Regions from separate parts of the Homo sapiens genome. Here all the other regions are linked to region 1. Evidence: fine-mapped expression QTL. A gene starts in region 1. Each other region holds a variant in brackets. All regions are shown on one strand. Distances are between the middles of the regions. Region 1 holds the start of PROS1 (protein S). Region 2 has its middle 250 kb from the start of PROS1. Region 3 has its middle 87 kb from the start of NSUN3. Region 4 overlaps PROS1 (protein S). Region 5 has its middle 110 kb from the start of PROS1.

Region 1 (6,476 bases):
GAAACTTTGCTTCTGAGGCCTTTATTCTGGGATATTTTCTTCTAAGCTCCAACAACCCTATCTATAACATGGAAATTAAAATACCTACTTTTCCAGGTTGCTAAGGTGATGAAATGAGAGAAATGAAGCTCAAGTGTAATTTCTGATAAATAATAGATAGCAAATTTTAAAGTTGGTGTCACCTGTCCCATAAACACTTATGGTATGTGTCCTCCTACCTCCAAATATCCATGGTGGGAGACAGGAGAGCAGGGCAGGATAAGACTGCAATGCTCCATTAACTCCAAGCCAATTTAGGACTGTTTCTGCTGACTCTACTTTCATGACTCACTTTCTTAAACTAGTGTCTTGCAAACCCTAAAGTTATATTGTTTGTATTCACTCTTTGATCCATTTACTATGATTGGGCTTCTGTCCCATCTAACTACTGAAAGCATATTTTTTGATATAACTTATATCTTCCTAATTACCAAATCGGTTTTCTTTTCTATTATTTAATATATATATAATATAGTTAACTTTTCTAAAACTGTTTCCTGCCTTGGTCTTTCACAGTTATGCACTGCACTACCCTACCCTGGTTCTCTTCTTCTTTGTTTTTTTAACTTATTATGGACCGCTTCATGAATTTGCATGTCATCCTTGTTCAGGGGCCATGCTAATCTTCTCTGTATCATTCCAATTGTTGTATATGTGCTGATGAAGTGAGCACAACCCCTGGTTCTCTTCTGATCTCCCAGGCCATTCCTCCTCTGGATTTCTATATGTAACTTCTAAGATATGACCTTACCCCTCTGCTTTTCTTTTTTAAAACATGTTGTCTTGATGGAATTTGATTATTATTTCTGTGACTGAAGGATCTCATGATGTGTATGTTTCTTGAGCATTTTTAGAACTATATTCAAGACTGTTTTTTCACAAATATATACTCAACACCAGTTTTGCAGTAAATCCTCATTTATCTTCATCCAGAGGTTCTTAGAAACTATAATTTTAAACAAAATAACATACAATAAAACCAATTTTACCACAGACAAATTGATATAAATCAATTAAGTTCCTGTGGCACATTTCTGGTCACAAAAACATCACCAAACTTCAAAATAAAGATGGAACCACTAGTAATAGTAAACATTGAAATAAATGTGAGCTATACATTAAGAAAGATGAATAACAACAAGTAAGATAATTATTTGTCCACTTATTCCAGTTCAGGATCATAGGTGGCATCTCAGGGTAAAAGGTGAGAACTAGCCCTTGACAGGACACCATTCCATCACAGGGTGCTCTCATACATGCCCACACTCACTTAGACTGGGACAGTTTAAACACACCAATTCACCTAACATCCACATCTTTCAGATGTGGGAGGAAAATGGAGTACCTGGAGAAAACCCATGCAGACGTGGGGAGAACATGCAAACTCCATACACACAGTGGCCTGGGCCAGTAGTTGATTTTATTTTTCTCAGCCATGTCATAATGAAACAATACTATTAAAGCATCTGCTCTACTTCATGCCTTCCCCATTTCTGCTAGTGATAACATTACCGAGCATTCCTGGTGCCAACATGCAGTCCCTTAGCAAAGCTGACTCTTAGTTTTTGAATATCTTAAGTGGTTTGGTAGCCATAAGTGCTGCTCACCATGTCTAGTTCTCTTTCCTTACAGGCACATGAAATAACAGTTATTCCCACCCTCTTCAAGTCAGGCATACCTCGTGCCTTGCTTTGTCTAATGAAATGTAAGTGGTATGTCACTTCTTGGTAAAAGTATTTAAGAGCTGGGGCACAATTCTCAATGTTCTCTCTTCTCTTGCAATGGTAATTGTAGAAGACTATGTTGACTTTGAGGGATTGTAAAATCAAAGCAGCATGAATTGCTGAGTTCACACATGGAAGATAGTTACTTGGAAAGTCATGCAGACTTGTAGTAGACTTCCAATGAGCAAGAAATAAACACTTCTTATCTAAAACACTGTAATTTTCTGGCTTTTTAGTGTGTAATCTGGTTTATTCTGAATGATGAAAAGAGTCATGCTGCTATGATTCTAGTTAACACTGTCATTTCAGGATAATTGTTGATATTTTGGCATAAATATTCCCAGGCACACACTGTTGACTTAAATAGAATGAAACGTTTATGTACCAGTCACTGTTTTAAGCACTAGTAATATAGTTGTGAACAAAACCTTTAAAAATTCCTGCTCTCATGAATCTTACATTTTACTGGTGAAGACAGATGAAGAAGTGGATAAGTAGACACTATGTTGGTAGAAGATGATATGGAGAAGTGTAACACTGGAAAAATGATGGGATTAAGATTATGAATGAGACTAGATTAAGAGTTAAATTTTGGACAGGTTTTAATTGTATATTAAGGTCTGTATCAAAACCAAACTTTGGCTAAATGAGATTACCAAGTGTCAATTCATATTGAGCTAAAGCCAGATATCACTTTCACAAAGTTAACTTCTGAGATTAATTAAAAACCCAGAATTTTATTGAAAGATGTATTGTCAAATTGTATATTAATAGATTCCAGATGGTTTTACAAAGTTTGACGTTACAGTGTAGGACACATAAATTTTCAGTGTTGACAATTATTACTGGCAATGTGATGCAAATTTGTGGTATTAAAAAGATATTCAGGCCAGGAGAAGTGGCTCACACCTGTAATCCCAAAGCTTTGGGAGGCCAAGGCAAGAGGATCACTTGAGGTCAGGAGTTCCAGACCAGTCTGGGCAACACAGCGATACCATCTCTACCAAAAAAAAAAAAAAAAAAAAAAAACAAATTAAAAAATTAGCCTGGCATAGTGGTGTGTGACTGTAGTCCTAGGTACTCAGGAGACTGAGGCAGGAGGATTGCTTGAGCTCAGAAGTTCGAGGCTGCAGTGAGCTATGATTGCACCACTGCACTCCAGTCTGGGCAACCTAGTGAGACCCTGTCTCGGATAAATAAATAAATAAATAAATAAGGCTAGGTGTGGTGGCTCACACCTGTAATCCCAGCACTTTGGGAGACCGAGGCAGGCAGATCACTCACGATCAGGAGTTCAGAACCAGCCTGGCCAACATGGTGAAACCCTGTCTCTACTAAAAATACAAAAAAACTAGCCAGGCATGGTGTCAGGCGCCTGTAATCCCACCTACTCAGGAGGCTGAGACAGGAGAATCACTTGAACCCGGGAGGTGGAGGTTGCAGTGAGCCGAAATTGCGCCACTGTTCTCCAGCCTGGGCGACAGAGTGAGACTCTGTCTCAAAAAAAAAAAAAATTTTTTTAAATTAATAAATAGGTAGATGTATAGATAGATATTCACTTTCAACTGAAGTCTTTATCGGAGCAAGATTTTTTTTAAGGTAGATTATTCTAATATTCCCTTCTTTTCTTCATGTTCTTTACATTATTTTTATGCCTGTATGGCATACAAGACCGAAAAAACATGTGGATGATCAAAATGACCCCATTTGCTTTTACTATCACCATAGTTCTTCCTAAAGTCCTCATTGACTTCCAGGTTTTGGTTAATATCTTCAGGGACAACTCAGTGTCTCACTGTTTCTGCTTCTGAACCTAGGGATCCTGTCCTCTTGAACCCTGGAAGTTGTCTTGACCAGTCAGAGAACTGCGTTCCCCACCCCTTCCCCTTTGGAAACGTCACACTGTGGAGGAAAAGCAGCAACTAGGGAGCTGGTGAAGAAGGATGTCTCAGCAGTGTTTACTAGGCCTCCAACACTAGAGCCCATCCCCCAGCTCCGAAAAGCTTCCTGGAAATGTCCTTGTTATCACTTCCCCTCTCGGGCTGGGCGCTGGGAGCGGGCGGTCTCCTCCGCCCCCGGCTGTTCCGCCGAGGCTCGCTGGGTCGCTGGCGCCGCCGCGCAGCACGGCTCAGACCGAGGCGCACAGGCTCGCAGCTCCGCGGCGCCTAGCGCTCCGGTCCCCGCCGCGACGCGCCACCGTCCCTGCCGGCGCCTCCGCGCGCTTCGAAATGAGGGTCCTGGGTGGGCGCTGCGGGGCGCTGCTGGCGTGTCTCCTCCTAGTGCTTCCCGTCTCAGAGGCAAACTGTGAGTAATCAATAGCGTCTCTTCTCCCTTCCCCAGCATTGTCGACTGAACTGCGTGCCCTGGTTGGTAGGATTTTCTTCTCTAGAGCTGCAGCCTCCTAGAAAGTTTCCAGTAAGTACCGACAGACACCCAGCGGATGGAAACAGCCGTGGATAGAGCAGGCAGTGCAATGGTGGGGCAGGATCACTATTTGCACAGTTGCGAGAATGTATTGCCTACAGGACAGATCTAAGAACCTAGATGACACTAAGTATCAATGGAGGGATGAGAACACCTGCCCATTTCCCTTCAAAGCTGAAGTTCCCAGTCAGAGAACTAGGATGAGCAGATTCTAGCTTATGAGTAGGGAAGAAAAGGTAACACACTGTGTCTTCCCTTTGTCCAAGCGCCTGCCCCCAACCTGCACCCGTCTCCTGAAACCTGCCTCCCTTTTGCAATTTCTGGACTTTGAGCTTGGTTTGCTTGTCTCACATTAACGAAATGTTTTAGGATGACTGAGGGTTTGTATAGCAGTAGATATATGTCACTTTCTAACCCTGAAATCAAAAGGACTGTTAAATACTGTATTCTATTTCTCAGATCGTTTGTACTGAGGATTTTTTAACACTGCATGCCACTGATCTGAGGTGGTGGCATGAATTCTTTATCTTTGTGTTTCAGGTTCTTTATGTCCTTATGCCCGGATTCAAGACAGGATATTGAGTTTTCTCTGAAAAATATATAAGGAATACCAAGGCAATTAGTACATTTTAGTGGTCAGTTAATTTGTTTTCTAAAGTTGTAAGTGTGTTTATTGAATAAAAACGCCTTTTTGTTTGTTTGTTTGAGGGTGAGTCTCGCTCTGCTGCCCAGGCTGGACTGCAGTGGCTGGATCTCCGCTCAATGCAACCTCCGCCCCCCGGCTTCAAGTGATACTCATGCCTCAGCCTCCCGAGCAGCTGGGATTACAGGTGCCTGCTTCGACACCCGGCTATTTTTTTTTTTTTTTTGTATTTTTACTAGAGACGGGGTTTCACCATGTTGGCCAGGCTGGTCTCGAGCTCCTGACCTCCGGTGATCCATCCGCCTTGGCCTCCCAAAGTGCTGGGATTACAGGCGTGAGCCACCGCACCTGGCCAAAAATGACTTCTTGTTCTATGTTTTATTTTCAGGGATTGGAACAGGAGTGAGAACTCTGAATTACAAATAACTTTTAGGAGTCTAGAGCTCCAAAGTAAACTTTTTGAAGATGGAAATTTCTAGAAAATTATATATCAATTTGCTAACATTCCACTAGTTTCTATTAGTTAGTCATCAGGATGAATGCAGTACTTTAAAAATCTAACTTGGGACTAAAACATTATTTTTTGATCTTACATTAAACAGCTACAATTGCAAAACTTCAGCATTCAAACCCCTATCATTCAGCCAATTTGTAACTACATGCGCTTATTACCTAAATAGTTCATTAGGACAATTAAATATTTGCTTCATAGCTAGTGTTTTGGAGAGGAGAAAGGCAAAGTAGCTTGCCACACTTAACTCCTTGTCATCATAGAAATTTGCTAGGCTTTTTCTCTTTGTAGAGATTGTTACATTTTGACTGAATCTAGGCAGAGGTAAAAATTATATGGGTTTGTGTATGTGTATTATATATAAACATATGGGGAATTACACTTGTTATATATAACACTGATAGAGCAGATAAATTAATTCTTCAAGTATATCACATAAAGAATAGTTGGCCCCATAATGCTTTCAGTTAAAAGTTTTTGATTGCTTAATTGGATTAAAAGTCATCTGTGGTTTACTTATGAGGAAATTTGGATATAGATGTGATGTTTTTAATCCATATGATTTGATTTTACTTTATTTTTATTTATTTACTTTTTTGAGACGGTCTAGTTCTGTCACTAAGGCTGGAGTGCAGTGGCATGATCATAGCTCATGGCAACCTCCCCCTCCCGAGCTCATGGGATCCTCCCAGATCAGCACCTATCTAGCACCGCACCCAGCTAATTTATGTGTGTGTGTGTGTGTGTGTGTGTGTGTGTGTGTGTGTGTGTGGTTTTTATTTTGTTTTGTTTTTTTGGTAGAGTTGGTGTTTTGCCATATTGCCTAGGCTGGTCTTGAACTCCAGGGTTCAAGCGGCCTGCCTACTTTGGCTGCCCAAAGTGCTGGGATTACAGGTGTGAGCCACTGTGCCCAGCCTCCATATGATTTTAAATCTGAGATATAATTAGAGCTGTAAATATTTTATTTGTAATTCATTGTGTAGTTCTTTATTTAGAATTATTTATTTATTTATTTATTTATTTATTTATTTATTTATTTATTTAGAGATGGAGTCTTGCTCTGTTGCCCAGGCTGGAGTGCAGGAGTGCAGTGGCGTGATCCCAGCTCACTGCAACCTCTGCCTCCTGGGTTCAA
Region 2 (6,476 bases), 250 kb after region 1:
CCCAAGACTAAACCAGGAAGAATTTGAATCTCTGAATAGACCAATAACAGGATCTGAAATTGTGGCAATAATCAATAGCTTACCAACCAAAAAGAGTCCAGGACCAGATGGATTCACAGCCGAATTCTACCAGAGGTACAAGGAAGAACTTGTACTATTCCTTCTGAAACTATTCCAACCAAAAGAAAAAGAGGGAATCCTCCCTAACTCATTTTATGAGGCCAGCATCATTCTGATACCAAAGCCGGGCAGAGACACAACCAAAAAAGAGAATTTCAGACCAATATCCTTGATGAACTTTGATGCAAAAATCCTCAATAAAATACTGGCAAACCAAATCCAGCAGCACATCAAAAACTTATCCACCATGATCAAGTGGGCTTCAAGGTTCAATATATGCAAATCAAAAAATGTAATCCAGCATATAAACAGAACCAAAGACAAAAGCCACATGATTATCTCAATAGATGAAGAAAAGGCCTTTGACAAAATTCAACAACCCTTCATGCTAAAAACTCTCAATAAATTAGGTATTGATGGGATGTATTTCAAAATAATAAGAGCTCTCTATGACAAACCCACAGCCAATATCATACTGAATGGGCAAAAACTGGAAGCATTCCCTTTGTAAACGGGCACAAGACAGGGATGCCCTCTCTCACCACTCCTATTCAACATAGTGTTAGAAGTTCTGGCCAGGGCAATTAGGCAGGAGAAGGAAATAAAGGGTATTCAATTAGGAAAAGAGGAAGTCAAATTGTCCCTGTTTGCAGACGACATGATTGTATATCTAGAAAACCCCATTGCCTCAGCCCAAAATCTCCTTAAGCTGATAAGCAACTTCAGCAAAGTCTCAGGATACAAAATCAATGTACAAAAATCACAAGCATTCTTATACACCAACAACAGACAAACAGAGAGCCAAATCATGAGTGAACTCCCATTCACAATTGCTTCAAAGAGAATAAAATACCTAGGAATCCAACTTACAAGGGATGTGAAGGACCTCTTCAAGGAGAACTACAAACCACTGCTCAAGGAAATAAAAGAGGATACAAACAAATGGAAGAACATTCCATGCTCATGAGTAGGAAGAATCAATATCACGAAAATGGCCAAACTGCCCAAGATAATTTACAGATTCATTGCCATCCCCATCAAGCTACTAATGCCTTTCTTCACAGAACTGGAAAAAACTACTTTAAAGTTCATATGGAACCAAAAAAGAGCCTGCATCACCAAGTCAATCCTAAGCCAAAAGAACAAAGCTGGAGGCATCACACTACCTGACTTCAAACTATACTACAAGGCTACAGTAACCAAAACAGCATGGTACTGGTACCAAAACAGAGATATAGATCAATGGAACAGAACAGAGCCCTCAGAAATAATGCCACGTATCTACATCTATCTGATCTTTGACAAACCTGAGAAAAACAAGCAATGGGGAAAGGATTCCCTATTTAATAAATGGTGCTGGGAAAACTGGCTAGCCATATGTAGAAAGCTGAAACTGGATCCCTTCCTTACACCTTATACAAAAATCAATTCAAGATGGATTAAAGACTTAAACGTTAGACCTAAAACTATAAAAATCCAAGAAGAAAACCTAGGCATTACCATTCAGGACATAGGCATGGGCAAGGACATCATGTGTAAAACACCAAAAGCAATGGCAACAAAAGCCAAAATTGACAAATGGGATCTAATTAAACTAAAGAGCTTCTGCACAGCAAAAGAAACTACCATCAGAGTGAACAGGCAACCTACAAAATGGGAGAAAATTTTCACAACCTACTCATCTGACAAAGGGCTAATATCCAGAATCTACAATGAACTCAAACAAATTTACAAGAAAAAAATAAACAACCCCATCAAAAAGTGGGCAAAGGACATGAACAGACACTTCTCAAAAGAAGACATTTATGCAGCCAAAAAACACATGAAAGAATGCTTATCATCACTGGCCATCAGAGAAATGCAAATCAAAACCACAATGAGATACCTTCTCACACCAGTTAGAATGGCAATCATTAAAAAGTCAGGAAACAACAGGTGCTGGAGAGGATGTGGAGAAATAAGAATACTTTTACACTGTTGGTGGGACTGTAAACTAGTTCAACCATTGTGGAAGTCAGTTTGGCGATACCTCAGGGATCTAGAACTAGAAACACCATTTGACCCAGCCATCCCTTTACTGGGTATATACCCAAAGTATTATAAATCATGCTGCTATAAAGACACATGCACACATATGTTTATTGTGGCATTATTCACAATAGCAAAGACTTGGAACCAACCAAGATGTCCAGAAATGATAGACTGGATTAAGAAAATGTGGCACATATACACCATGGAATACTATGCAGCCATAAAAAATGATGAGTTCATGTCCTTTGTAGGGACATGGATGAAACTGGAAATCATCATTCTCAGTATACTATCACAAGAACAAAAAACCAAACACCACATATTCTCACTCGTAGGTGGGAATTGAACAATGACATCACATGGACACAGGAAGGGGAACATCACACTCTGGGGACTGTTGTCGGGTGGAGGGTGGGGTGAGGGATAGCATTGGGAGATATACCTAATACTAGATGACAAGTTAATGGGTGCAGCGCACCAGCATGGCACATGTATACATATGTAACTAACCTGCACAATGTGCACATGTACCCTAAAACTTAAAGTATAATAATAGAAGAAAAAACTTAAAATAAATAAATAAATCAATAAAAACTAGACAGAAGCATTCTCAGAAACTTGTTTGTGATCTGTGCATTCAACTCATAGAGTTGAAACTTCCTTTTGATAGAGTGGTTTTGAAACACTCTTTTTGTAGAATCTCCAAGTGGACATTTGGAGTGCTTTGAGGCCTATGGTAGAAAAGGAAATATCTTCACATGGAAAATAAAAAGAAGCATTCTCAGAAACAACTTTGTGATGTGTGCATTCAACTCACAGAGTTGAACCTTCCTTTTGATAGAGCAGTTTTGAAACACTCTTTTTGTAGAATCTGCAACTGGATAATGGGACGTCTTTGAGGCCTTCTTTGGAAA[C/G]GGGATTTCTTCATATAAAACTAGACAGAAGAATTTTCAGAAACTTCTTTGTGATGTGTGCATTCAACTCACAGTGGTGAACGTTCCTTTCAATGGAGCATTTTTGAAACACTCTTTTTGTAGAATTTCCAAGTGGATATTTAGCGCCGTTTAAGGCCTATGGTAGAAAAGGCAATATCTTCGTAGAAAAACTAGACAGAATGATTCTTAGAAACTACTTTGTGATGTGCGCATTCAACTCACTGAGTTTAACCTTTCTTTTGATAGAGCAGTTTTGAAACACTCTTTGGTAGAATTTGCAAGTGTGTATTTAGAGCGCTTGGAGGCCTTTTTAGAAAAGTAAATATGTTCACATAAAAACTAGGCCGAAGCATTCACAGAGACCACTTTGTGATGTTTGCATTCAATCACAGAGTTGAACATTCCTCTTGATAGAGTAGTTTTGAAACACTATTTTTGTAGAATCTGCAAGTGGATATTTGGACCTCTTTGAGGCCTTCATTGGAAATGGGATTTCTTCATATAAAAGTAGACAGAAGAATTCTCAGAAACTTCTTTGTGATGTGTGCCTTCAACTGACAGAATTTTACCTTTCTTTTGATAGAGTAGCTTTGAAACACTCTGTAAAGTCTGCATCTGGATATTTCGAGCGCTTTCAGGTTTTCCATGGAAACGGGAATATCTTCACCTAAAAAGTAGACACAACTATTCTCAGAAACTTCTTTGTGATGTCTGTACTCAACTCACAGATGTGAACCTTCCTTTTGATAGAGCAGTATTGAAACACTCTTTTTGTAGTGTTTGCAAGTGGATATTTGGAGTGCTTTGAGGCCTATGGTAGAAAAAGAAATATCTTCACATAAAAACTAGACAGAAGCATTCTCAGAATCTACTTTGTGATGTTTGCATCCAACTCACAGAGTTGAACATTCCTCTTGATAGAGCAGTTTGGGAACACTCTTTTTGTAGAATGTGCAATTGGATATTTGGACCTCTTTGAGGCCTCCGGTGGAAACGGGATTTCTTCATTTAAAACTAGACAGAAGAATTCTTAGAAACTTCTTTGTGATGTGTGCATTCAACTCACAGAGTTGAACCATCCTTTTTATAGAGCAGATTTGAAACACTCTTTTTGTAGTATTTCCAGGTGGTTACTTAGCGCGCTTTGAATCCTACGGTAGAAAAGGAAATACCTTCATATAAAAACTAGACAGAATCATTCCCAGAAACTACTTTGTGAAGTGTGCGTTCAACTCTCAGAGTTTCACCTTTCTTTTGATAGAGAAGTTTTGAAACACTCTGTTTGTAAAGTCTGCTTTTGGATATTTGGAGGGTTTTTAGGTTTTCTTTGAAAACGGGAGTATCTTCACATAAAAAGTAGACAGAAGTATTCTCAGAAACTTCTTTTTGATGTCTGTACTCAATTCACAGAGGTGAACCTTCCTTTTGATAGAGCAGCGTTGAAACACTTCTTTGTGGAGTTTGCTAGTGGATATTTAGAGTGTGTTGGGGCCTATGGTAGAAAATGATATATCTTCACATAAAAGCTAGACAGAACCATTCTCGGAAACAACTTTGTGATGTTTGCATTCAACTCACAGAGTTGAACTTTCCTCTTTATAGAGCAGTTTTGTCACCTTCTTCTTGTAGTATCTGCAAGTGGATATTTGACTTCTTTGAGGCCTTCTTTGGAAAAGGGTATTTCTTAATAAAAAAACTAGACAGAAGAATTCTCAGAAGCTTCTTTGTGATGTTTGCATTCAACCCACAGAGTTCAACGTTCCCTTCAATAGAGCAGTTTTGAAACACTCTTTCTGTAGAATATCTAAGTGGATATTTAGGGTGATTTAGGTCTATATTAGACAACGAATTATCTTCATATATAAACTAGACAGAATCATTCTCAGAAACTACTTTGGATGTGTGCATTGAACTCACTGAGTATAACCTTTCTTTTGATAGAGCAGTTTTGAAACACTCTTTTTGTAGAATTTGCAGGTGTTTATTTAATTTAAAGCACTTTGAGGCCTACGGTGGAAAAGGACATATCTTCACATAAAAATTGTACAGAAGCATTCACAGAAACTACTTTGTGATGTTTGCATTCAACTTACGGAGGTGAACATTTCTCTTTATAGAGCAGTTTTGAAACACTCTTTTTGTAGAATCTGCAAGTGGATATTTGGACCTCTTTGAGGCCTTCGTTGGAAAATGGATTTCTTCATTTATACCTAGACAGAAGAATTCTCAGAAACTTCTTTGTGATGTGTGCATTCAACTCACATAGTTGAACCTTCCTTTTGATAGAGCAGTTTTGAAACAGTCTTTTTGTAGAATTTCAAAGTGGATATTTAGAGCGATTTGAAAACTATGGTAGAAACGGAAATATCTTCATATAAAAATAAGACAGAATCATTCCCAGAAACTACTTTGTGATGTTTGCATTCAACTATCAGAGTTTAACCTTTCTTTTTTTAGAGCACTTTTGAAACACTCTGTTTGTAAAGACTGCGTTTGGATATTTGGAGCGCTTTGAAGTTTTCTTTGGAAACGGGAGTATCTTCACATAAAAAGTAGACAGAAGTATTCTCAGAAGCTTCTTTGTGATGTCTGTATTCAACTCACAATGGTGAACCGTCTTTTGATAGAGCATCTTTGAAACGTTTCTTTGTAGAGTTTGCAAGTGGATTTTTAGAGCGCTTTGTGGTCTATTGTAGAAAAGGATATATCTTCACATAAAAACTAGACAGAAGCATTCTCAGAAAATACTTTGTGATGTTTACATTCACCTCACAGAGTTGATCATTACTCATGATAGAACAGTTTTTAAATACTGTTTTTGTAGAATCTGCAAGTGGATATTTGGAACTGTTTGAGGCCATCGTTGGAAATGGGATTTCTTCATATAAAACCAGACAGAAGAATTCTCAGAAACTTCTTTGTGATGTGTGCATTCACCTAACAGATGTGAACATTCCTTTCAGTAGAGCTGTTTTGCAATACTCCTTTGCAGAATTTCCAAGTGGATATATAGTGAGCTTTGAGGCATATGTTAGAAAAGGAAATATCTTCCTATAAAAGCTAGACAGAATCATTCTCCGATACAACATTGTGATGTGTGCATTCAACTCACTGAGTTTAACCACTCTTTTGATAGAGCAGTTTTGGAACACACTTTTTGTAGAATTTGCAAGTGTGTATTTAGAGCACTCTGATGCCTGTGTTAGAAAAGGAAATATCCTAACATAAAAACCAGACAGAAGCATTCTCAGAAACTACTTTGTGATGTTTGCATTCAACTCACAGAGTTGAACGTTTCTCTTGATAGAGCAGTTTTGAAACACTCTTTTTGTAGAATCTGCAAGTGGATATTTGGACCTCTTTGAGGCCTTCGTTGGAAAATGGATTTCT
Region 3 (6,476 bases), 180 kb before region 1:
ATCCAATTCACAAATTGTGGGGAGGAGAGACGATATAGCAACCAGCCTTCTCTGTGCTTCTGCTGCCCTGGCCATCATTGAGACAAACCCTTCCCCCAGGAATAAGAACTTGCCAGTTTGATTGACCCAAGTCCTGGACATTGATAGGGCAAAACATATTAGTGAATGAGGTGAATGTGCATTAAAAGATAATGCATCCGTGTGCATTCCCTCTCAAGTAGTTTTCTGTATTTGAACACCACCCATACCTGCAAACGCACACCTCTTGAAGCAGCTAATTATCTCCTTATTTTTTCCTTTGATTCAGCCTATTTTTTTCCTATGCATAGGTTCTAGGTCTATATTCTGAAAATGTGATTAAAAATGTGAACCTGAATACACAGAGCTCATTAAATATTTGAATATGCTTCTCATGTGACATAGATTTCAAATACTCTGCTATCTTAAATTCTGTTATCTGAACATAGCTTCATTTGTTTCTATTCCTTTAAAATTTTGCTATTTAGAATATAATGCAATATTCTAGCAAATGTCTGAGCAGAGTATGGCTATCACCCTCCTCTAGATAGCATTCTTGTGTTAATGCCCATTAGCTTTATTGGCTGCCACAACACCCTGTTGGTGTATTAAATTTCCTGTTGAATACATCTCCCATTTGGCTATTTGCGCTGACACCTAATCTTCGGTTCTCTATACTGGTGTCCTTCTTTTTCGAATTTAGGTTCAAGGTCTTATATAGTGCTAGTGACCATGGAAAATAGTCTATTATATACCCTATAACAACCATTTGTTCATCTCTAGATAGTTTTCCTACCTCCATTGTAATTTCATGATTATAAGAAGAATTATTCAGAAAGAAAATGAGATATGGTATATTTTATGTGAGGTACATGCCATACACAATCAGCAAGGGATTTTTCAGCATTTTCTGTAGCAAAATTCTAAGCCAATTTTAAAGGATGCTGACTGTGGAAAACTGACACAGGAAATAAGTCAGCAAAAGAATTTAAAACACAAAGGACAATGGGAGTATTGAGCACAAAAATGGCAAATAAGGTGGCTTATAAATTTGGGGAAATTAAGCTGTTATCTTTAAGCATGCATCGGTTAGATTTTAATTTTGCACCTGTTTTGCAGACAGAAGTTTTGTGTCTAATTCTCATGTAAACATTTTAAGCAATCAGAACATATATCTACATTGCTTTCATGGAGTACTGCTGGAAGAATTACTTTAATTACATTTAATCCTATTTAGGACTGATTGAGAGGCATTCTAACACAATAGGAGAGTGGAAGTGGATAAAGTTCAGGTCAGGGATTTACCAAGTTTTTATGGATTTCTTCTGTTCTGTCCTCCTTTATGGGATATAGCCATTTTGTAGATAAAATATAAAGTAGCAAACCCAGGAAAATAGGGGAAAGACACTATTGGTCACCTACTTTTGAAGAAATGTGCCCTCTTTGAAGGCTAGACTTGGTGAAGAATTTGTGAAATGACAAAGATTTTTTTTTTTAACCTTTTTTTTTTTTTTTTTAGAGAGAAAGGATCTCTCTCTCTCTGTTGCCCAGGCTGGAGTACAGTGGCACTAATATGGCTCACTGCAGTCTTAACCTCCGGGGCTCAAGTGATCCTGGCACACCAGCCTCCCAAGCAGCTGGGACTACAAGTGCATGCCACATACCCAACTAATTTTTTTATTTTTTGTAGAGATGGGATTTTGCTATGTTGCTTAGGCTGGTCTCAAACTTCTAGGCTCAAGTGAACCTCCCATCTCAGCCTCCCAAAGCCCTGAGATTACAGGTGTGAGCCACTGTGCCTAGCGGTCTCTCTCTTTTCTTGCAATGCCATCACATCAGGAACTAGCTACCTTACTAGCTAGTTAATTAAAAACTTAGCATGAGCCATGGATTTTTATTAAAGAAAACCTGTGCATTTATCTTATGGGACTTGGAGAAGCTTTCGATAATTCCTGAAAATCAAAGTACCTATGTGCTCGCATGTTGTACCTGAAAAGGGACATTATTGAAAGTGATTTGTGGTTGCCAGGTTTCTCAGGTACCATGCTGACATTCTGCCAGAAGCAGCCTTATACTCCAAAGATTATACTCTACTCAAAATAGCATAGTCATTAAAAATGAATTCTGTGATCAAATTCTCTCTCTTCCACTCCCTGGAAGTGTAAACTAACACCTTTGACCCTCCACTTTCTCATCTGTATAATGAGGATATAACTACTGCTGTAGTTTGAATGTGCCCGCTAAAGCCATGTGTCCTGACTTAATCCTCAATGCCATAGTATCGAGAAGTGAACTTTTAGGAGGTGATTAGTTCATAAGGGCTCTGCCATAATAAATGGACTAATGCCATTATAATGGGAGTGGGTTAGTTATCTTGGGAGTGGGCTCGTGATAAAAGGATAAGTTTGGCCCCTTTCCTCTCTGTCCTGCATGCTCACTTGCTCTTTCACCTTCTGCTATGGAATGATGCAGCACAAAGACCCTTTCCAGACGCCAGCACCAAGTTTTTGGACTTCCCAGTCTTCAGAAACATAAGCCAAATGAATTTGTGTTCATTATAAATTATGAAGTTTCAGCTATTCTATTATGGCAGCACAAAATGGGCTAAGACAATTCAGATGTTTGCTTTAAGAATGAAATCATATACTTGTTTGTACATGAAGGCACTCAAGAAGTGCAGTGATGATTACATTAGTTATCTACTGCTATGTAACAGTTACATCAAAACTTAATAGCTTAAAACAACAATGATCTTTTATTAGCTCACAATTCCTATGTGTCAGGACTTTGGGAGCAGTTTAGCTGGATGTTTCTGGCTCAGTTTCTCACGAGACTACAGACAAAATGTTGGCTAGGGTTTCAGTCATCTAAGTCTTGACAAGGGCTAGAAAATCCACTTCCAAAATGGCTCATTCATAGGAACTTTGGCAGAAGGCCTTAGTTCCTTGCTCCTTGGACCTCTCCAGAGGACTGTTTTATTGTCCTCAGGGCATGAAACCTGGTTTCCCTAAAGGAAATAATCTAAGAGAGAAAGGCTGAAGCTGTAATATTTTTTATGACCTAGCCTTAGAAATTACACATAATCATCTCTTATTGGTTACACACATCATCCCTATTCAATACGGGAGAGGACTACACGCTTGTGTAAAGACCATTGGCAAAGACCATTGGAAACCATCTAGCAGACTAGTTAACATGATGATGATAACTGTGATGATGATAATAAGGAGGAGGAGGATGAAGGCACAGACCACAGGAGATCAAGAGCTTACCGGAGTTCAGAGAAAATATGTGATGTTACCTTTGCTTTAGTGTACAGAAGAAAGAAGCTGGATACTCAATGTGAAACTTTAATAATTCTAAAGAACACCAAGAAAGTTTCTGAATGAACTGTTCTCTGGAAGAGCAATATAACTTACCAGTTCCCATGTTCCTAAAACATAATATATTCTAAACTCATTCAACAAATGTTTGATATGTCCTGTGAATTATTGT[G/A]TTTGCTTGGGATGCATCAGTGAATAAAATGAAGATCTCTGTCCCAATGGAGCTTGCGTTATAGTGGAGCAAGAGGCAATAAAAAAGAATAAGTTGCATGATATGCTAATGATACATTAAAAAAATAGAAGATGTACAGTGTAAAGGGGATCTAGAAATGTTGGTATGGCATATGGGGTTGGTTAAAGGACTAAATATTTGTTGAATGGATGAATGAACAAGTCATAGGCCTGCCTCTGGAGTCTCTGGGAAACAGAACTTCAAAAGTTGTATGTTCACCAATGAGAAAAAAAAATAGCTTAAAACATGAATTGAAAGCAGTAGCTTAGAAAACCTAGAACACATTGGCTCTAAGAGGTTCTGGGCCTCAGAACACCAGTGAGAGTAGCTGTTAGACTAGACACATTAGGAACCGCACACAAATACACAGTACTGGACACTGCATGTGACCAGGATTATCCAGGACAACAGGTTTACTATGAATAATGCTCAGCCAAGGGAAAGTGTGGTAGACTCAGATTCAGAAGAGTCTACCTACCTGAACGCCAGTGATTTCTAGACCATACAGTAACCCTTCATGACAGTATCACCATCTCCATTCCACAAAAGAGTAAACAAGTATTCAGAAGCCAAATGATTTACTAAGCATTTGAATCGTTTCAAAGACATTGTTCTTTCCGTATGGCATATCTCTTCTTCCAAGATCTTCTTGAACATGTGATGGGAGAAAAATAGCATTGGTAAAATATCTAAATGCACAAAAGCATGATTTGTGATTTTTACATGTGGGACTCAAGAAGGGACCACAAACTTAAATTTTGTAAGTATTGTATGGTATGTAGTGTTTGTGCAGATCTCCTCTTCACAACTTGAAACAAGATTTCTTATGCTTCACGAGTTGCAATGTGAAATATGACTCAGAACCGTTGTTCTCTCCTGAGGGGTCTGTATATATAACGAAAATGACAAGAAGAAACAGAACACAGAGATTACGCTGTAGATGTGGAACTTCAATATTTTCCTTCCTGGATTGGTGGGAAGGTGGGGATTATACTCTTCAAGACACCCCGCACTCAACATGGCAGCAGTAGCTACGAATTTGGATCAAATGATTCTCACTTAATCAGCTCTCTTGAGAAGTAAGCAGAATAAAACCTATCCTGAATTCCTTATTGCAAAATTTTATGTGAGATTGTACTCATGACTATTACTTAGTAAAGGTAGACTAGAAAATGTACCATACTTATTTTTGACACACAAATAGCTTGACTGCTAAAATAACATGCCAGTGAGAAAGAGACAGGAAGAAAGCAAATATACATTTCCAAAGAAAGCTAGTGGTAGTTAGACCAATTTTTCTACTTGCAAAAGTTATAGACCTCTCTTTGTAACAATAGAAAAGAGAGAGAAACAGAGAAAACAGCTAAAGAAATCTTGCTCAAAATGAATGGCTTAGAATACCTATCACAACACAAAGAGACAGCTCTCATCTCCTAGAATAGTTTGGAGACTTCCTGTGTGATCCAGTAGAGGAGTGCCTAGCCTAGTTTTGAACATGAACACATATGTCCTTGCTACCCAATATTAAGTAAGTGCATATGACATATTAAATGTATGCCAATGGCTTAAAAGTAAAAGAGGCTGGGCACAGGGGCTCACGCCTATAATCCCAGCACTTTGGGAGGCCGAGGCGGGCGGATCATGAGGTCAGGAGATCAAGACCATCCTGGCTAACAACGTGAAACCCCATCTCTACTAAACAAAATACAAGAAATTAGCCGGGGGTGGTGGCGGGCACCTGTAGTCCCAGCTACTCGGGAGGCTGAGGCAGGAGAATGGCGTGAACTCAGGAAGTGGAGCTTGCAGTGAGCCAAGGTAGTGCCACTGCACTCCAGCCTGGGTGACAGAGCAAGACTCCATCTCAAAAAAAAAAAAAAAAAAAGTCAAAGAAGCCAGTTTGGCTTGCCAAATAAATACAATTTCAACCTCATCTTGCTCTTTGTCAAAAAATGATGTATTCCTATACATAAATCATAAGCCCACTAAGCACAGCCTCATAATTTGACACCAATCTTTTCTCTTGATAGTCATTACTCAGGTTATCATCTTTGAAAGAGAATGGTGACATTTTTGCTTAAAAAAGAACTCATTTTAATTTTAATTTCTACCCACCGTGCATTTTAAATGAGGCAATGCAAGCTGTGGAATGCTTGCATCTGCCCCTATCAAGCCCAGGAAGCCAGTCCAGGGAAAGGAAGGCGGAAAAAGGGAAACACCTGTCAAGGACCTGAGAGCCCAGGGGTGCACAAGGTAGGCAGAGAGGCCTCCGCTGATCAACACTTTTTGACAGATGTCACATCACTGTTGCCATCTCTCTTTTGCCAACTTTTAGCTCTTATCATATTCAAGAATTTAATTCTCAACTTTGAGAGGAAAAAAAGAACAGAGACAATGTTTATTCCCCATACTCTTAGCTCTGGTTTGCCAAGCTGATTTCTGAATATGTAAATACTTTTCTCATGGAGACGCAAAAGACTGTCTTCTTGGTCTTGTTAAAGAGAGAAATTAAGCCAGAATGTTCTCAGGGTAGGCTGGCAGGGAAGCCAGGGAGGTATATTTCCACTCGTGTCGCTGTTTAAGTTAATTTAGCCAGAAATCCTGATAAAATCACTAGGTGTACTTTGTGATTGCTGCTCTAGAAATACGGCTATACCTAGTTGGGGGAGAGGAGTGAATAAAGGGCTTTAAGGAAAAACTGACTGTTCCACTGTTGACAACACTTTTGTCTCAAGGTAACTCACCAGTGAGGCAGCCTGCCAGCATAATACATGACTCCTGAGCAGCATGGGAATTGCTTAGCTGTACCGAGCTGACGGTGAGCCACTTAGGAGTCATTAGGCCTTTGAGGCATTCTAATCTGGCAGTGCTGGAAATTTGTGACATTAGATGCTAAATAGTTGACA
Region 4 (6,476 bases), 53 kb after region 1:
TTCTTGTGCTGTTAATGGTACACATTAGATATATTATGGCTTAAGAATGCTTTTGTGGACTAGCCTGAGAACCTTACTATCAGAAATTTTTAACATTTTTCTCTTTTTAAGAAAGCACATTCTTTACTCCAAATTGACTGATTTACAGACAAACTTTTGGTACACAACCAATTTATAGGTAAGGTACTACATGTACATAAGATGTATAAGATAAATGTCTACTTTAATTCACTTCAAAGTATGTCACTGTTAGCTGGGCACCTTGGCTCACACCTGTAATTCCAGCACTTTGGGAGGCCAAGGTGGGAGGATCGCTTGAGCCCAGGAGTTTGAGGCCTAGGCAACATAGTGAGACCCCATCTCTACAAAAAAATAATTAACAACAAAAAACCAGCTGTGCATGGTGGCATGTACCTGTAGTTCCAGCTACTTGGGGGGCTGAGATGGGAGGATTACTTGAGCCCAGGAGGGTAAGGCTGCAGTGAGTCATGGTCATACCACTGCACTCTAGCATGGGTGACACAGAGAAACCTCGTCTCAAAAAAAAAAAAAAAAAGAGAGTACGTTACTGTGATTCAACATTGAATCTGGTGTAGGTGACCATTATGACATAAAATGTGTCAAATGGTTATCTAATCATTATGGAAAAATTAAAGGATGTACAAAAAAGGGCATGTATGATTATATTTACCATCCTAAATAGAGCTTGTTTTTAGATTAGAAGCTTTTGAAACATGATTAATTGATCAATATTTCTTTAAGCCTAAGTATCTTACTGGCTTAATTTTATTGTTTTCTCTTGGTATATTTTACTATATAAAAATTATAATGTGAAAATGATGGTTATATGTAACTTATTTGCATCTTTAATATAAAAACACATTATAAAATTAAGTTTTAACTCTATAATGAAATTTAGGTTTGCTAAGATATGTTTTCTTTTTCTTCTTTCTAGGATTATTTTTATCCAAAATACTTAGGTAAGTTCAAAACATCTCAATTATATAATCTTAGAAATGGAAGGGAACTTAGATATGTTCCTGTCTAACTCTCCACCTATCTATTCCATCCAATGTAATTTCATTATCCTTGGGAGTGAGGTTTCATTTTATATGCAATTTTGCTGTCTTTATATTTAACACATGTTGAGAAATTTGGAACGGTTCTTTAATTACCATGTGACATTTTAAATTTTAGTGTTTTTCTTTCTCATGTCTTTCTCATGAAGCTCTTGGGCTGATGCTCAGTTATATTGAGGTGCTAGACATAGTCTATGAGCATATGCGTTTTCATGGGTTAACTGTTTTTTTTTTTTTGTGAGGCAGCGCCTTGCTGTGTCACCCAGGCTGGAGTGCTGTGGCCTGCTCTCAGCTCACTGCAACTTCTGTCTCCCTGGTTCAAGTGATTCTCAAGTGCCTCAGCCTCCCGAGTAGCTGGGATTACAGGCATGTGCCACCACACCCAGCTAATTTTTGTATTTTTAGTAGAGACAGGGTTTCGCCATGTTGGCCAGGGTAGTCTTGAACTCCTGGGCTCAAGTGTCCACTCTCCTCAGCCTCCCAAAGTGCTAGGATTACAGGCATGACCCACCCTGCCCAGCCTTAGCTGCTGTATTTTAAAAGGGCAGTGGGATATGGATATATCCATGAAAAAGATGTTTTCTTTTGTAAAGTTACATGCAAGAATTTGTACTATTAAAGTGTAGAAAAGATAGTATATCAAGACTATTTCAGCTTTTTAATTTTAGATAGAAATGTAAATATTTTATAATAAAAATAGACAATATTTGGCTGTTAAATATTATGTGTACATTAAAAAAACAGTGTTAACTCTTGCTTCTTAGGGCCATGTAATGAGGCTGCATTTTTGCACGCACAATACTGTAGAGGATACATTCCTTTGATCAGAGTACATTTGGATAAAGATAAATACCATGCTAATACAGCATTATGTGTTCTGGGGAAGTTCCTTAGATAAAATATTTTTCATAATTTTATCCTTGTATCTCTCTTAACTTCCGCTTTTCTGGCCCTGCCCAACTCTTCTCTTTGCCTATCTCATTTGGCAACATGGTAAAAAAAACCAAAGTATAAAATAAAACAAACTAAAACAAAAACACAAGATGTGGGATCCAGGCTCAGACCTAAAAATTTTTAACTGTTTCAGATTAAACAAGTTGTTTAGCTTTCCAGCTTCTGTAGTTTTAAGTGTGCACTGTAACTATATTTTCTAACTTCAGAGCTTTTAAATCACCAAATATGTCAACGTACATAAATAACTTAATGTGTCAAAATTTCTTCAGATGTATTCTTGTTTAATCAACCCATCATGTGAAACAAAAATATACTTTTTATTATGATTTTTTTTAATTTAAATTTCATATTTTGGTCTTTATTTGTATATAGGCATGTGTGGTGAATTCCACTGTTAAAAACAATTTTTAAAAATGTCCTGCCTAAGTTACACTTTTTTTGTTATTTGATGTGTATATTCTATAGGCCAATGGCTCTAATTTGAAAAGCAAAACAAA[A/G]CAGTCCTTTCTCTGGTAAATCTAACAGTAGTTTTACTAACTACAACAGCTCATACAGGAAGGTCCCTGTAGTGAGATAAGGTCACCAAAGAAATTAAAAAATTGTAACCCATATATTTGGGGCAATATTTAGACTTCGTTTTCAGGGGCTGATAAAGCACTTCAATTGGCCTACATATTCCATGTACTATCTTGAAAACATGCGATTTGGAAATAAGTACTCTGGGTTTCATTATAGTTTTTAAATTGTGTTCTTCTCTTTTGTAAGAAGTGGAATAAATAACTACCATTTCCATAGGCCTAGTATCACCTAATAGAGTGAGTGTTTCTAGTAAAGAGAGAGAAACTTCCTGGGAAGAATGGTGAACTCTGAGCCTAAATATAAACATTAGAAATCATTTTTTGATGTGAGCTGGCAAAAAATAAAATAAGGAAAAAACCTGAAAAATAAAAAAAAGAAATTATTTTTAGTTTCTAAGATAAGTTGGTGAATTACCTCAGAATGCTGACTCCCTCCCTTCAAATCTTCTCTAAAGAAACAATAAGATTCCAAGCACTAATAATAACAAAATAAAATGACAAAAAGAAGTTTAAGAAATGCCTGGGTAGGCGAAAAGCTGGCCTGACCTGCTGGTATGTGTGGTGGGGGATTGGGTTCTAACTGACAAGGCAGTAGTGACAAAACAGATTTGATAATTTAAAAAATGACATGAACTTTCCAATTGAGAAAACAAACACAAAAAATACAATAGAGCAAACCCCAAGTAACAAGAAGTTTTAAAATAACAAAAACAGAGATAGAAATAAGTGGAATAGAAAAACAAAAGTGAGCATTAACAAAAGCACATTCTCATTCTTTGAAAAGGTTAGTAAGTGAGACTGACATCTGGCAGGAATAATCAAGGAAAAACAAAAAAGAGAAAGAGGAAATGCCAATACATAGAGTACAAGATAGAAAGGGAAAATATTCTAAACTCAACACAGATTAAAAATATTATCATAAAATATTACAAACAGCTATATTAAATACACTTGGAAACCTAAATAAAATGGATGTGTTCCTAGAAAAACATAAAATATCTGTAATTTCACAGGAAGCAATAGAGAACTTAGTTATACAAACGAGTATTAAACAAGTTAAAACCGCAGCCAAAGCCCTCTTCTTCCTATTTCTCCCGAAACCCAGATCCAGATGGTTTTACAAATGAACTCTTCCAAATTTTAAGAAATTGTTAATGTTTCCCTTATTAAGATATTGTCCTTAAAAAATGAGCTTATTCTAAGAGGCTTATGTAATCTTGACTCCAAAATCAAATAAAGACATTTAGTAAACTCATTTTAAAATTTAAGTGAGGGAATAAAAGAAAAGAAAAATAGCATTCCTTTTGATTTTGAATTAATTCTAAATAAAATGATATTCAGTCCGATCTTAAGTGTGTTAAAAATAATATCATGATCAAGTAGAATTATTCCAGAAATTTAAAGGTGAGTTAACATCAGGAAATCAGCTGGGTGCAGTGGCTTATGCCCGTAATCCCAGCCACTCAAGAGGCTGAAGTGCGAGGATCACTTGAGGCCAGGAGTTTGATACCAGCCTGGATAACATAGTAAGACCCCACCACTAAAAGTATATTATTACCTCAGTTCATACAGAAAAAGCAGTTGATAGAGATCACTACTTAGTTATGATAAAAGTTTTTGTCAAACTAAGAATATAAGAAAAGTTTCTGAGCTTGATAAAGGTTAAATCTAGAATAACCATATAATTAATCTTCCAAATTTTCACACTTCAGTTCAGGATTAATAATGCATAAGGTAATGTCAGCTAGAACAAGAATAAGATAGGGTTGTTTTGAGCAAATTAGCATGAGAAAGGAGGGAGGGAGGGAGAGATGGAAAGAGAAAGAGAGAGAAAAGAAAAAGAAAGTGAACAAAATCTGCAGTAAACATTATACCTAATGAATAAAATTTAGGTATAGTTTCTTTATGGTTGAGAACAAAAAGAAAAGTACTGGAGGTTACATTCAATGCAATAAGAAAAGAAAAATAGGGATTGTATAGATCATAAGCTATAGTATATTCCTGTCATTACTTTTAATAGATATAATACTGGAAAAAAATAGAATCCATAGACAAAATATAGGAACACATAAGGTATTTAGATAATTCTATGACTCTCCTATAAAAATCCATAGTAGTTCTTTATGCAAGCAGTAGTCTAGTAGAAATTAAAAAGATGATAGCATTCACAATAGCAGCAAATCCCATAACATATCTAGAAATATCTTAAGAACACATAAAAACCCTATGGAGAAAATGTTAATACTCAAATTGAAGACTTAGAAAATGAATTAAAACCATGGAAAGATATTTCATGATCTTGAATTGAGTGATACTATACAGTGATCAGTTCTCCTCAAATTGATTTTATTTTATTTTATTATATTTTATATTTTTAGAGATGGGGTCTCACTATGTTGCCCACACTGGTCTCAAACTCCTGGGCTCAAGCAGTCCTCCTGCCAGGGCTTCCCAAAGTGCTGGGGTTATAGGTGTGAGGTACTATGTGTGGCCATCCTCAAATTTATATGTTCAGAGCAATCTTGTTTAAAAAAATATTTTTGAGAAACTCAGTAAACTCATTTTAAAATTTAACTGAGGAACTAAAAGTCCACACATGTCTAAAATACAAAAGAGAGAAATATCTTATCAAATATTAATAATATAAAGCTATAGAAATAAAACTATATGGTATTTTCAGAACATGAAACTGAACAGAAAGTTCAGAGAAAGGCTCATATCTATGACAACCTAATATTTGATAAAGATGATACTGTAAGTCACTGTGGATTATTTAAAGATGGTATTGCGAAGAATGGCCAGCTATTAGCAGACAAATAAACATGGGTTTCTAATTACCACCAAGTGTAAAGGTGAATTCTAGATGGAATAAAGACAAAAATGTTAAAATAAAACCATGAAATTAAAGAAACAATATGGGAGAATATCTTTGTGACTGATGACATGGGGGAAAATTTTAAATTCACAAGCTGTAAGGTGAAATAATAAATTGGATTATAACAAAATTAAGAATTTATCTTACAAGAGAGACATGAATAGTAAGATTAAGAGACAAATGACAGATCTGTCTCTGTCAAATAAATATCAAAAATATAAATATCAAGAGGTGATATTTATAAATGTTTATTTTTTTTCAAATCCGCAGGAAAAACAAATAAGGATCAATAGAAAAATGGTAAAAAAAAAAAATAGGGAAAATTTTCAAAGAAGAAAACTTTCAGATTTGGAAAATGACATGAAAATATGCTGCCTCTCCTTAGAAATCAGAAAAATAATGAGATATTACTTTACTACCTATTAGTCTGCCAAAAATTAGAAAGCAAGGATGTAGAAATCCTTATACTCCACTGGTGAGAATGCACCTCTGAGAGCCATTAAGTACATTCCTATTTAATGATCACACAATTCCACCACTGGGTATCTATTCCAAAGAAATTGTTATGCAGGTACTAAGGAGACATGCATGAGGATGTACTTTCCGCCTTCTTGTAGAGGTAGAAAGTTGGAGGTAATTTGAGTGTCTTATCATGGGTAGAGAGAATTATAAAGTGGTGGTTGCATACTGTGGTGTAACACTTAGTGGTTAGTAGCAATGAATTATATGTAGCAGCATGGATTGATCATAAAAATCAAGTTCTGAGAAAAAAATTAGAGGATGTGATATATAACACAAAACCATTTACACACGTGAAAAAAAACATGGAAATGAAATTGTAAATATATATTTTCAAGAACACTTACAAATTTTAAAAATACACATAACCACTGGGCATGATGTCTCATGCCTGTAATTCCAACACTTTGGGAGGCTGAGGAGGATGATTCACTTGAGGTTAGGAGTTCGAGACCAGCCTGACCAGCATGA
Region 5 (6,476 bases), 110 kb after region 1:
AACAAAAAGCGAGACAGGAAAAAGAAGGATAGGGAGGTAGGGAGGAAGAACAGGTGTGTGTGTGTACAAAACCAGGAGGAGAGAAAAAGACAACAAAGAGAAGACATAAAACAAGAAAGGTAGGAAACAAATTCAGTGAAAGATTTGGTAAGATAAAAATTGAAAATGAGGGAAAGAAAAGTAAAGAATATAGAAAGATACTTGATGAGGAGGGTGAAGAGGAGATGGAGAAATAATAGAAAAATAAATATCTACTTTTTTTGTAAACAAATAGCAGTAGATAGCGACAAATTGATGCCACACCAGATAAGCATATAAGAAAGAGGAGAGGGACCAGGTGCAGTGGCTCCCGCCTGTAATCCCACTGTGGGAGGCTGAGGCCAGCAGATGGCTTGAGCCCAGGAGTCAGAGATCAGCCTAGACAACATGGCAAAACCCTGTCTCTACAAAAAAATAATAATAAAAAAAAACAACCCAAAAAGCTATCCATACCTGGTCGCCCATGCCTGTAGTCCCAGCTACTCAGGAGGCTGAGGTGGGAGGATCACTTGAGCCAGGTGAGGTTGAGGATGTGGTGAACCATGATTGTATCACTGCATTCCAGCCTGGGTGACAGAGTGAGACCCTGTCTCAAAAAAAACGAAAGAAAGGAAGGAAGGAAGGAAGGAAGGAAGGAAGGGAGGGAGGGAGGGAGGGAGGAAGGAAGGAAAAAAAGAAAAGAGAGAGGAGAGAAAATTGGTAGGGGAGAGGAGGTTTAACCAAACATATTAAAGGGGATAGGTGCAGTGGCTCACATCTGTAATCCCCAAATCTTGGGGGGCCAAGGTGGGAGGATTGCTTGAGGCCAGGAGTTCAAGACCAACCTGCGTAACAAAGGAAGTCCCCATATCTACAAATATAAAAATAAAAAATAAAAAAATGTTAGCCAGGCATAGTGGCATGTGTGCCTGTAGTCCCAGTTACTTGGGAGGCTGAGGAGAGAGGATGATTTGAGCCCAAGAGTACAAGCATGCATTGAGCTATGGTCACACCACTGCACTCCAGCTTGGACAACAGAGTGAGACCCTATCTCAAAAACAAACAATAAAAACCCCAAACATAAAAAAGGGAGACAGACATAAAGAACAAATATAAATGGAAAGAAAGAGGGAAAGATTTCCAGACTAAAGACAAGAAAGAGGCAGAGATTATAAAAAATATAATTCAGAGATTATGAGAGAGAGAAGAATGTGTCTGGAAAGAGGAAATAGGAACAAGTAGAAAATGATTTTAGAAAATGAAAAAAGCCAGAGAAAGAAAGAGATGATGAGCAAAGAGAAAGAGACAGAGGATAAATCACAAAGGAAGAGACAAGGAAATGGAAAGTGAGGCAGGAGGAAGAGGGTCCTCAGCTAGTTTATCCAAGGTGAGGATGCAACCTTGACTTGCTGTGGAAATGATGTTCCAGTGCCCTGGAGGGGGAGCTGTTGGCCAAGTAGCTGCTAGACAGCATACACCCCCAAATCATCTCTGACCTTCTTGGTCATCAAGAAATCCTCTGTAGGATGGTACAGGAATGATGACCTTGTGACATTCTGCCAGGAGTGGGGATTGTGGGGAGCTTGCAACCACTAATCTCTCTCTGCCTTATTCCTGACCTCTTTGGGGTTCAGTCAATTTACAACAAATGGAGCTGTCAGTTATTGCATTTGGGGAAGTGCAGAGTAAAAAGGACTCTTCTGAACATGTGATGAATTTCATGCTGAAAATGGAACTACGAAAACGTTTAAACTTACTGCTATACAATAAGCCCAAGCATCATCAGCTGTAACTGGCACACTAATGGTGAGCTAGAAATACAATGGGCAACACCTGGGATGTCATGAGAGAAAAATCCAGTAGGATGTCAATTTACTAGCTTATGAAGACTACTGAGTTAAAGGGAGTGGTATATTCATCCTATTACGTGAAGGAAGAAGCTTGCTTGGACTGCACTCGGTGGTAGAATCAATCATTGAGATAATGCTGTAGCTACCCTTGATACATGTTCAATACCTCCTTGGAGGAGTTTTTTTTTTTTTTTTTTATCAATTTCAAACATTCTTCTGACTTTGATATAACTCAAGAAATATGTAGAATAATTATTCTAAAAGTTTAAATATTTTTTTCTTTTTCTCTGCAAGTACCATTTTTTTTTTTTTATTTAAGATTTGGGATACATGTGCAGAATGTGCTGGTTTGTTACATAGGTATGCATGTGCCATGATGGTTTGCTGCACCCATCAACCCATCATCTAGGTTTTAAGCCCTGCATGCATTAGGTATTTGTCCTAATGCTATCCCTCTCCTTGCCTCCCACCACCCGACAGGCCCTGATATGTGATGTTCCCCTCCCTGTGTCCATGTGTTCTCATTGTTCAACTCCCACTTATGAGTGAGAATATGCGGTGCTTGGTTTTCTGTTCCTGTGTTAGTTTGCTGATTTTTAAAGAATCTGCTTAGAGGTCAGAACTTGGTGCTCTTGAAAACCTTTGACAAATGTATACCCAACTAAAAAGAGTAGCTTTCAAAGAAATTTTTATCTGTGCCAAGCCAATTTGAGTGAAACTCTCCTATTCCTGGTATCTATACTCTCCCCTCTGATGTTTCAAATAGATATTCTCCAGGAATGTCTTAGAAACCTAAGTATCTGCAGCTTTTAAGCACTCACTATTTTTTCTCTCATCAGCTCATTTCAGCTTCATGGATGCCATGAAGCATGGCATCCAATCCTAAGTCTTCCCTCCTTCCTGTCAGCCTTTATTTCTAGGAAGAAAAACTAAGCCTTAATGAACCTAATTACTAGAAAGATTCTGGTATAATAATGTAGACTTCTTGGGAGTCAGATTGTTCAACCCAGAGAAGAAATACCTGGATGCCTTCGGGGGCCATAAAACTAAACATGAAGACTTGTATCTTCTACCTCCCATGTGGAACTTTCCAAAATACCCAACAAAGAAAGAAAAATCAGTAAAATCATTCATCTTAAATCTCTCATTTGCATCATAATCATCACAGTCCTCCAGTTATTTCTAACACATAGAACCTGAGAACCTATTGGTATGGTAACTGTGGGGGTGTTGGGAAGGCAATGACCAATCCATTAATCCAACAACTATTTGTGGAACACACAAAATGTGCCAAACACTATGCTTTCTGGGCATTTGGGATAGATATAGATGAATGAACAAGACACAAATATCTATGTGCCTTTGTACAAATACGGTCATAAAGATGACTAACCTAGAAAGCAAATGTGTCTTCTATGATTCTTCTCATATCATGTTTTCAAAGATGCTAATTTAGTCTTTTATCTTAGTATCAAACTGACAGATTCCAGGTTACTTTTAATTGTTAATGTTCCATAAAAAATAAATAACTCTGTGAGTGTGGAATTTAGATAGAAATCTAATCAAGTGGACCAGTC[A/G]CTGTCACTGGACAGTCATCTCTCAGGCTCTGTGTGACCATCTTCACTGATGCAGAGCTCACTATTAACCAAAGTCAGCTCATTTTCCCTTTGTTCACGGCATCAGTTTGGGACTTTCAAAAAGCAGATTCCAACAGAGATTAGACAGGTGTTAAGGACTGAATTGTGTCTCCCCAGAATTCATATGTTGAAATATTGAAGTCCTAAACTCCAAAGTGACTACATTTGGAGATAGGGCCTTTAAGGAAGTAAGTAAGGTTAAATGAGGTCATATGGGTTGGGCCAGAATTCAATATGACTGGTGTCATTTTATAAAGAGAGAGAGACACCAGGCATGCTCAGACACAGAGGAAAGGCCATGTGAGGACACAGTAAGAACATGACCATTTGTAAAGAAGGAGAGAGACATCAAGAGAAACCAAACCTGCTCATGCCTTGGTCTTAGATTTTCAGGCTCGAGAACTGCAAAAAATCCAATTGCCCCCTACTCTGTAATATTTCATTATGGCAGCCCTAGCAAACAAATAAAACAGGGAGAAACATCTGTGAAGGAAAAAGGAGGGTACAGGAATGGGTAGGAAGAATCTTCATGTAGCCATGTAAATTGGACACCTGTGAAGGAGAGAAGGAAGTAGGATGATAGGAAGTCTCAGATCTGAGTGCAGTTCTAAGAAGGTTTCAGCTATGTTGATGAGGAGTTCTTGAAAAAAGTTGCCCATCAGAAGGGTCCTGCATCAAGCAGGAAGGGCCTGGCATAAGTACCCTCACTGTGCTCAGTCATTAGTTGGGAAGCAGCCCGGTAGGTCCAGAGGAATAACAAGTGGTCTGTCAGTCAGCTCTATTTTGCAGAAGGTTCTCTTGGAGGTGGTCTGGGCAGAACCCCGTTCATGTCTGCTACAGTGAGCTCTGACTATTAGAAAGCAATCCTTTTCATGAAACCAAAAGCAGACTCTTCATATTCAACACTAAATACTCCTGTGTTACTGAGAGTCAATATAAATGAGCTTACAGCTCCCTTGGTTGCAAGTAGTAGAAACTCAATTTGAATTAGCTTAAGCAAAAGGAGAATTTTAGAAAAGGTATTTAGTTATCTTATGGAATTCTAGGGCTGAAAGAATATTCCTGGGGCTTGGATTTGCTGTAGTGAAATAAGGAAGTTCCTTCACTTTGTTTCTCATTACTGTTTCTCTTCAAGCAACTACATATTACTCTCTCAATACATGCTGGTTTCCTCAACTCTTCAGTTTACATTGTGGGGCATGCCTGCCAACCACTTCTGCATTTATATGTTCATGTTAGATACAGTTCAGACATGGCAGAGTAATAATCATTTCTAGGTTTCAGTCCCAGTTCCAGAATTCCGAGAGAAGTATTATTGCTTTAATCCAGTGTATTTGTTTATGGAAAGTGAAACACAAAGGTGGACTGTTGAGTAAAAAGAAATATTACAATATTGCTGAATACTCTGTATTGCTACTATTTGTGCTATTACTATTGTAATTTACCAATTTATAGGCTCCAAGAATAAATTTAAAAATAAAATTAACATTAAAAATGTGGTACATGTATATCATGGAATCCTACATAGCTGTAAAACATGATGAAATCATGTTCTTTGCAGCAACATGGATGCAGCTGGAGGCCATTATCCTAAGAGAATTAATGCAGAAACAGAAACCAAATACCAAATGTTCTCACTTATAAAAGGGAGCTAAACATTGGGTACACATAGACACAAAGATGGGAACAATAAACATTGGATATTCTAAGTGGGGAGAGAGGAAGGGTCCAAGTGCTGAAAAACTACCTATTGAGTTGTGTGCTTACTACTTGTGCAATGGGATCATTAGAAGTCCAAATCTTAGCATTATGAAATATATCCACATAACAAACCTGTCTTGTCTTAAACCAGACTTGAAAATGGTAACAGGCTGCTTTATTTGCCTCATTTCAATTTTGTGGGGAAGAAGAGAGACTGTACTTTCCTTTTGATCTAAAGTGGCTCAAATCTGTCCCTTTGTTTAACAGTGCCAGATTTAAGAAAAGAGTAATATTTTAAAATCTTAAAATGTGTTTTTATGCCGTATATTTCAGCATCACAATTTTCACCAGCACCATTAGAACATACGTTCAGATCAGTATGGTGTATGAACAGAAATGCTAATCCACTAAGCACTCATGTTAATGGTCATTTAACAAAAGAAATAGATTCTGAGTTGCTTGTAAATTATGTGAGGAGGAAGGTAAAGAACCTAGGAAATAATTAACTAGCATAATTCATTCAGATGTATTTCCTCTGAAAGCATTAAAATGTCATTATTGCTTCCTGAAAGAATTACTTTAAAGCACTGATATATTGTGGTTCTTTTATATGATTTTCAGAGAGCTGATTGTGTGGTTCAGAAAGTTAAAAAAAATACTAGAATCTCATATTCAATTTGGCCTTGATTTGTAGACTGTAGATTCATACAAATAAAAATTTAATTTTATGATCTATTCATTTAATGGTAGTTATATAATGCTTTTAAAATTTTTTTAATCCCTTTTATTAAAACAAATATAAGGCTTCTTTGGAGTGGGCAGAATGGGAGATATTAAATAAATCAAATGTTAAATAAGAAAAAATAGTTTTAATTAATAAAGCTGTGTTTCCAAAAGTAGCTTTTATCACCTTTACTATTACTTACATTTAATTTGACTGACTAGAAACTAGAAGGTGTCAGGCTATTAGACCTGAAAAAGTAGTGCCATGACCATGTTGAGGTAAAGTCAGGAAAAGTGTCATTCGAAATTATTCTGGGGATTTATATTATTCTGTATCCAGGGACTAAATTATTTAGCTCTATTAATTGTATAATAGAATATGTAAAGTATATTTTAGACTGAGAAAAGAAGCTCAAAATACTTCCTATAAGTGGTACAAGTTTACTAATTTGAATATATACTTTTTATTTGTGTTTTTTTAACAACTGCATTGGTTAATTTTAGGTGCCCAACTTAACTGGATTAAGGGATACCCAGATAGCTGGTA

Evidence for each region. PIP is the estimated chance that this variant, and not a neighbour inherited with it, causes the effect. A credible set is the group of variants that fine-mapping cannot tell apart.
Region 2: its variant is the best candidate, but not a certain one, in a credible set for the expression of PROS1 in subcutaneous fat (GTEx, PIP 0.68).
Region 3: its variant is the best candidate, but not a certain one, in a credible set for the expression of PROS1 in atrial appendage (GTEx, PIP 0.84).
Region 4: its variant is the best candidate, but not a certain one, in a credible set for the expression of PROS1 in whole blood (TOPMed, PIP 0.56).
Region 5: its variant is the best candidate, but not a certain one, in a credible set for the expression of PROS1 in whole blood (INTERVAL, PIP 0.61).

The regions. Positions count from the first base shown.
Region 1 is chr3:93,971,265-93,977,740 of GRCh38, reverse strand. PROS1 (protein S) reads left to right here and starts at 3,845. Exons shown (of 15, transcript NM_000313.4): 1 at 3,845-4,067. The coding sequence starts at 3,992. It also overlaps the pseudogene RNU6-511P. RefSeq lists a silencer at 5,902-6,196.
Region 2 is chr3:93,722,319-93,728,794 of GRCh38, reverse strand. No RefSeq gene overlaps it. Among named protein-coding and RNA genes, the nearest start is that of PROS1, 250 kb to the left of the region's middle. The variant C/G (reference allele first, on the strand shown) is at 3,066.
Region 3 is chr3:94,146,539-94,153,014 of GRCh38, reverse strand. No RefSeq gene overlaps it. Among named protein-coding and RNA genes, the nearest start is that of NSUN3, 87 kb to the right of the region's middle. The variant G/A (reference allele first, on the strand shown) is at 3,514.
Region 4 is chr3:93,918,744-93,925,219 of GRCh38, reverse strand. PROS1 (protein S) reads left to right here. Exons shown (of 15, transcript NM_000313.4): 3 at 956-980. Among named protein-coding and RNA genes, the nearest start is that of PROS1, 52 kb to the left of the region's middle. The variant A/G (reference allele first, on the strand shown) is at 2,531.
Region 5 is chr3:93,862,599-93,869,074 of GRCh38, reverse strand. No RefSeq gene overlaps it. Among named protein-coding and RNA genes, the nearest start is that of PROS1, 110 kb to the left of the region's middle. The variant A/G (reference allele first, on the strand shown) is at 3,446.